Linked DNA regions of Homo sapiens. The protein of the gene in region 2 purifies or fractionates together with the protein of the main gene of each other region. This does not show direct contact. Each region holds a gene or a part of one and is shown on either strand. Other genes may lie near its edges.

Region 1 (3,816 bases), about 20 Mb from region 2:
CCCCATCTCTATTAAAAAATACAAAAAATTAGGCGGGCATGGTGGCGGGCACCTGTAGTCCCAGCTACTCAGGAGGCTGAGGCAGGAGAATGGTGTGAACCCAGGAGGCAGAGCTTATGGTGAGCTGAAATCGCACCACTGCACTCCAGCCTGGGCAACAGAGCGAGACTCTGTCTCAAAAAAAAAAAGAAAAAAGAAAAAAGAAAAAAAAGGCAGAATTGCAATAGGCCCAGCAATTCCACACCTAGGTATACCGACAAGAGAACTGAAAACGATTCAGATAGTCACAGCAGTATTATTCACAACAGCCAAGCAGTGTAAACAACCTCTGTGAATATAAGAGTTCATTCACAGATGAGTGGGTAAGCCAAATGTGGTATGTACACACAGTGGAAGATATGGCCACAGAAGGAATGAAATTCTGATACAAGCTACACTGTGGATGAACCTTGAAGACATTATGCTCAGTGAAAGAAGTCAGACCCTTCCAACACAGGGAGGGGGAGAGGGTCTGCCCACCTGACAGAGGCGAGGGAGAGGCATCCACGTCCCTCTGCACCAGTTCAGCAGGTGGGAGCTCTACCTTATCCTCTTCAGGCCCCCACCGGCTCTTCCGCTTCCTCTTCACGGTGGCTGCGGAGGCTGGCTTCCCGGGGGCAGCTGGAGCAGGGATGATAGTGGGCGCAGGCGTGGACGAGGCGGGGCAGGTGGTGGCTGGGGGTAAGGACCCTGACAGGGCCTCAGGAGGGGACTTGCGCTTCAGGCCGGGATCAGGTGCTGTGAAGCTGCCTGTGGAGCTGGCCTTGGCTTTCCGGAACTCCTCCAGCTTCTGTCGGTAGTACTTGTACCCTTGGCTATTGGGCTCATACAGAAAGCTGCAAAGGAGAGTTGGGGGGTGCAGTGTCAGCTGGGCCCGAGGCCCTGTCCCTGATTCTGGGCAGGAGCAGTTCTGGCCTTGTGTGCCCACGTTGGCCAGGGTCACTATATGGTCATGTCATAGTCACGGTCTCCACCATGACCTCCTGCCCTGCCAGGCCTCCTGGCAGTGACTGCTGGTTCTGGTGGCCCGATGCCCTTCCTTTGAACTGAGTCACTCCAATCCTCACCCTGTCTTTATCAGGCACCCATCACACTGTCATTGTTCACCCTGCTACAAAGGGAAAGGGCAGGGACCCTCAGACCCTTCCCCAGGGCCTGGGAAAAGTGAGACATTCACACCAAAAAATCTCAGATTGTGGGGAGACACCAGACACGAGACAGGGCAGAGGGACTTGTCTTGATCCCAAGGGCTTCTCAAATGCATCTTTGAGACAATGAACATCAGAACGGACCAAGGAGCTGATTTCTACCCCACGTGGGGGCAGGCAGCCTCAGGGAAGTGTGGCTTCCAGTGAGGCTGGGAGCACAGGTCTTCTCTGTCCCTACCCAGCCTGAGGAGCACAGCAGGTGGCGCTGGGTTCAGAGCCATGTTCCGCACCTACTGGCGCCTCTCGGACCGTACACATCCCCAGTCCACAGGACTGTCTTTGGGGTCTATGCCAAAAGGGAGAGTCTTGGCCCAGCTCCACATGGCAGAACACGGGAGAGAACTGAATGCATGTACAGCCCTGAAAGCATGTTACAGTGCTGAACAAGATGGGGCTGGACCTGCACTTGTGAATCTGGAGGGATGGTCATAGCACCAAGGCGTGCAACTAATGTGAATTAAAGGGTCAAGGATGCTGTGAAGTCCCTTTGTGTTACAGAGGCCGGGCGCGGTGGCTCACGCCTGTAATCCCAGCTCTTTGGGAGGCCGAGGCGGGCAGATCACCTGAGGTCAGGAGTTCGAGACCAGCCTGGCCGACATGGTGAAATCCCGTCTGTACTAAAAATAAAAAAATTAGCTGGGCGTGGTGGTACACGCCTGTAGTCCCAACTGCTCGGGAGGCTGAGGCAGGACAATCACGCGAACCTGGGAGGCGGAGGTTGCAGTGAGCCAAGACTGGGCCACTGCACTCCAGCCTGGACCAGAGTGAGACTCCATCTCAAAAAAATAAGATAAATAGTGAGCGAGCAGCAAGAGACCCCTTAGACAGTTTCTAGGTGAGCCTGTGTGTCTACGGCCCTGCTAACATCCGGTACCTCAAGAGGGTGGGACAGAAGGACAGGAGATGACAGCATCTTCTCTGTAATCCTGGGTCATGGTACACGTGTGACCCAGTGAGGAACATATGCAAAGATTAAGAGGTAAAAGCAACAACTGTTCAGGAGAGAAGGGAACAGTTGGTCAGATTTGGAAAAGACACTTGACAGCCGGGTGAGTTCAGACATGGATTTGAGAGGCCAAGCTGGGGAGGCTCACTTGCTAGGGCGAGCAGGCATCGGGGTGTGGGGGCCCCTTCCTGGTCTCAGCTGGTGCTTCACCCTGAGTGTCCTCCAGGATGGTCCAAGGATGCATCACAGTCCCCTGGAGGGTCTGCCCATCTCGGGGAGGGGGTTACAATGGCACTCAATGGTAGACCCCCATGAGGGGGAGAAAGTGGAGCCCCCCAACACCCCATCTAGAACACGGCTGGGTGCACCACCAAGGTTCCCCTCTGGTGGAACTAATCCCACCCTGAACCCAGGGATAACCACTGTTAAGGTGTTTCCTGCCAGTTTCAGCAAAGATTTATCTTAATAGAGCTGTGATCCTATACATATCCCAGTTTTAAAAAAAATTTCTGCCTCAAGCTGATGACATAAGCCTTTCCTATTAGAACAGTGGAAGCATGTTCACTGACTGGCCTTGCTTCAGTTCCCTCACACTGGGCTGCCAGCTCACATGGGTGCCTTCTGAAGGCGGCATACTCCACTGGGGAGATGTGCTGATGATTTAACCCACAGAGGTTGGACGCTGACTGTGTCACTGACTTTTCTTTTTTTTCTTCCTTTTTTTTTCTGAGACGGAGTCTTGCTCTGTCGCCCAGGCTGGAGTGCAGTGGCACAATCTCAGCTCACTGCAAGCTCCGCCTCCCGGGTTCAGGCAATTCTCCTGCTTCAGCCTCCTGACTAGCTGGGACTACAGACGCCCGCCACCACACCCGGCTAATTTTTTTTTTTTTTTGTATTTTTTAGTAGAGACGGGGTTTCACTGTGTTAGCCAGGATGGTCTCGATCTCCTGACCTCGTGATCCACCCCGCTCAGCCTCCCAAAGTGCTGGGATTACAGGCATGAGCCACCGCACCCGGCCTACTGACTTTTCATTACAGCTGATGCTCTATTGACATGATTTCCAGGATGTATCTCAGAAATGGGAGAATGACTAGTCCAAGGGATGGGCGTTTCCAGCTTTTCATTTTTTTTTTGTTTTGTTTTTCAAGATGGAGTTTCACTCTTGTTGCCCAGGCTGGAGTGCAGTGGTGCAATCTTGGCTCACCGCAACCTCCGCCTGCCGGGTTCAAGCCATTCTCCTGCCTCAGCCTCCCAAGTAGCTGAGATTGCAGGCATGCGCTAATTTTGTATTTTTAGTAGAGACGGGGTTTCTCCACGTTGGTCAGGCTGTTCTTGAACTCTCGACCTCAGGTGATCCACCTGCCTCGGCCTCCCAAAGTGCTGGGATTACAGGTGTGAGCCACCAAGCCCAGCCTCATTTTTTATTTTTTGAGATGGAGTCTTGCTCTGTCACCCAGGCTGAAGTGCAATGGCATCATCTCGGCTCACTGCAACCTTTGCCTCCTGGGTTCAAGTGATTTTCCTGCCTTAGCCTCCCAAGTAGCTGGGATTATAGGCACATGACACCATGCCCAGTTAATTTCTATATTTTTAGTAGAGATGGGGTTTCGCCATGTTGGCCA
Region 2 (3,816 bases):
CCTTGGAGCAAGGAAATTGGCAGGTTGGCTGTGCCCTCTTTAGAGAACCGTGCCTCACCTGTGTGTTCATCTCTGGGCCCTAGAGTGGGAGGGGGCAAGAGCAGGGTTCTGGGCAGAACATCCCTGAGAATAAAGAGGTGGGAGCCACAGTGTCAGTGGGGTGTCTTAGGGAAGGGTCCCCCTTAGTGCCTCAGATGGGTGACCTGTACCTGCTGGCTGATAGAAAGGCCAGGAGATGGGGCAGGTCTGGCATGCAGAGGTTGGAGGATTCCAGGGACACACCTGTGGTGGGGGGAGGAAGAAGGAGAAAGTAAACTTGAGTGGTGGCAGTTTTCTGTCCCCTGGGATGCTCTTGCTCCTCCATTCCTTCAGAATCCCCCCAGGGACCTTCAGAACAGGGAAGTTCCCACTCTTTGGAGTCTCCATCTTTACTCTTGTGTACCACTTATGCCACCAACAAGGATTCATTCATTAGACAAACATTTACTGAGCCCTTAGTCCTTTCTAGGCACTGGAGATACAGTTATCAAAAGGCAGACAAGTTCACTGCCTTCCTGTAGCTTACCTTTTAGCGGGGGGCGGAGGGGGAAAAGGCAGAATATAAATGAATAAACAGTCAGGGTACGGTGGCTCACGCCTGTAATTCTAGCACTTTGGGAAGCCGAGGTGGGTGAATCACCTGAAGTCAGGAGTTCGAGACCAGCCTGGCCAACATGGCGAAACCCCATCTCTATTAAAAATACAAAAATTAGCTGGGCATGGTGGTGGGCGCCTGTAATCCCAGATACTTGGGAGCCTGAGGCAGGAGAATCACTTGAACTCGGGAAGTGGAGGTTGAAGTGACCTGAGATTAAGCCATTGCACTCCAGCCTGGGCGACAAAAGTGAGACTATCTCAATAAATAAATAAATAAATAAATAAAAATAAATTTTAAAAACGAGTAAACAAAGTGGATATTGTATTGAGTGCTATGAAGAAAATGGAGTGATTGAAAGTGACCAAGAGGCCAGGCATGGTGACTTACGCCTGTAATCCCATCACTTTGGGAGGCTGAGGTGGGTGGATCACTTGAGGTCAGGAGTTCAAGCCAGCCTGGCCAACATGGCAAAACCCATCTCTATTAAAAATACAAAAAATTGGGAGGTGGGGGCCTAGGGGAGGGATAGCATTAGGAAGAAATACCTAATGTAGATCATGGGTTGATGGGTGCAGCAAACCACCATGACACCTGTATACCTATGTAACAAACCTGCACATTCTGGACATGTATCCCAAAACTTAAAGTACGATAAAAAATAAATAAATAAAAATAAAAATAAACCAAAAAATTAGTCATGTGTGGTGGTGTGCACCTGTAATCCCAGCTACTTGGGAGGCTGAGAGGCATGAGAATTGCTTGAACCTGGGAGGTAGAGGTGGCAGTGAGTTGAGATTGGGCCACTGCACTCCGCCTGAGCGACAGAGTGAGACTCTGTCTAAAAGAAAAAAGAAAAAGAAAGTGACCAAGGTGCCATCTTTTAACTATGATGGTCAAGAAAGGTTACATTTCTGCAGAGGCCTGGAGGATGGAGACTAAACCAGCCCCTCTAGGAAAAGCATTCATACAGGATGAACCCAAGCAGAGGTCCTGAAGCTGGAACACACTTAGCATGCTAAAGACACACAGAGTGTAACAGTGTGTATGGGGCAGAGTGAATGAGGGGCAATAGATAGAGAGACAGGAAGGAACTACATCACACAGCACCTTATAGATCATGACAAGGAGTTTACATTTTGTATCTAAGGACGTTGCATGCTCTTTGCAGGATTTGGGGCAGGGGTGTATAACATCTGATTGATACTGAAAAATATCTTGGGCTCAGAATGGATTGTGGGAAGGAAAGGGAGACAGGATTGGAAATATTCATCAGATATTTTGGAAACAAAGCTGACAGGTGTTTTTGTTTTGTTTTGTTTTGGCAGGGTTTCCCTCTGTTGCCAAGGCTGGAGGGCAGTGGTGTGATCTTGGCTCACTGCAACCTCTGCCTCCTGGGTTCAAGCTATTCTCGTGCCTCGGCCTGCCAAGTAGCTGGGATTACAGTCGCGCGTCACCAAGCCCGGCTAATTTTTGTATTTTTTGTAGAGACGGGGTTTTGCCATGTTGGCCAGGCTGGTCTCAAAATCCTGGCCTCAAGCGATCCACCCGCCTCGACCTACCAAAGTGCTGGGATTACAGGCGTGAGCCACCGCGCCGGTCCAGCTGATAGTTCTTAGTGATCAATTGACTGTGGGCTGGAACCTCAGGGGAGGTGCCTTACCTCTGGGAATCTTCTGGATCTGGTAGGTATTGACTTCTCCTGGTAAAGGTCCTGACCTCAACACCAGGGCCTGGCTGGGGTCACGTCCTGTGACCAAGAAACTCTGGGGGATAGAGACAAAGGCCAGCGTGACAAAGGTGTGCGCAGATGTCTGTTGCTTTTGCCTGACTAGCATCCATTTCCCTTATTTTGGGTTCCACACCCCAAATTTCCTTTAGGGAAACCCTCTCCCTACTTTCAGTCCATGTGTGTTGGGCTGACTTCCCCCAAGCCCTGGCGGGGTGGGCCCATGACCTGATCTAGCCAACAGGATGAGGGTGCTCTCGGCCCACTGTTTGGTTCAGGGAACAGGCATGTGACTCAAGCTCAGCCAATGGACATCTTCCACAGGATTTTTTTTTTTTTGAGACGGAGTCTTGCCCTGTCGCCCAGGCTGGAGTGCAGTGGCACAATCTCTGCCCACTGCAACCTCCGCCTCCCGGGGTCAAGCGATTCTCCTGCCTCAGCCTCCCAAGTAGCTGGGATTACGGGCGACTGCCACCACGCCCGGCTAAGTTTTTGTATTTTTAGCAGAGACAGAGTTTCACCACATTGGCCAGGCTAGTCTTGAACTCCTGACTTCAAGTGATCCGCTCTTCTCAGCCTCTCATAGTGCTGGGATAATAGGCGTGAGCCACTGCGTGCTGGAGCTCTTTTGGAAAGACTTCATTTGTTACACTGGTGTTGCTAAACTGGTGGGATACAGCTCTGAGCTGGGAAGGATGATACCCTCCTGAGGAGGAAGCTGTGGTAGCCCCCGTTTGCTGTCGTCTCCAAACCTATTCCACATTCCTTGCAGAATTCCTTGTTCACGGCATTAATATACCCAGCCATGAGTATGATTGATATATGGATCATGATTGATATAGGTGGTGGTTCTTAGCTCTGGCTGTATACGTCCCAAGAGAGCTGTTAAAAATATTGCTACAGCCGGGCACGGTGGCTCACGCCTGTAATCCCAGCACTTTGGGAGGCCGAGGCGGGTGGATCACCTGAGGGCAGGAGTTCGAGACCACCCTGGCCAACGTGGTGAATCCCAGTCTCTACTAAAAATACAAAAATTAGCCGGGTGTAATGGCGGGCGCCTGTAATCCCAGCTACTCGGGAGGCTGAGGCAGGAGAATCGCTTGAACCCGGGAGGCAGAGGTTGCAGTGAGCCAATATCGTGCCACTGCACTCCAGCTTGGGTGACAGAGGGAGACTCCATCTCAAAAAATAATAATAAAAATAATAAATAAAAAAATTAAAAATATTGCTACCTGGGCCCCATCCTTTTTTTTTTCTTTTTTCTTTTTTTTTTTTTTTTAATAGAGACTGGGCCTTGCTCTGTTGCCCAGGCTGGTCTTGAACTCCTAGGCTTAAGCGAGCCTCCTACCTCAGCCTCCCAAAATGCTGGGATTACAGGCGTGAGTCAGCACACCCGGCCAGCCATCTATATTTTCTGAATCAGTTGTGAAAACCTTTATTTTGGCCGGGGACG

Evidence for each region.
Region 1: the proteins of RINL (region 2) and SUGP1 purify together in Homo sapiens (affinity purification with mass spectrometry; one large-scale study listed by BioGRID and IntAct). This does not show direct contact.

The regions. Positions count from the first base shown.
Region 1 is NC_000019.10:19,296,470-19,300,285, forward strand, and holds part of SUGP1 (SURP and G-patch domain-containing protein 1), read right to left. Parts: intron 876-3,816; coding exon 520-875; intron 1-519.
Region 2 is NC_000019.10:38,871,589-38,875,404, forward strand, and holds part of RINL (ras and Rab interactor-like protein), read right to left. Parts: intron 2,401-3,816; coding exon 2,298-2,400; intron 283-2,297; coding exon 210-282; intron 124-209; coding exon 59-123; intron 1-58.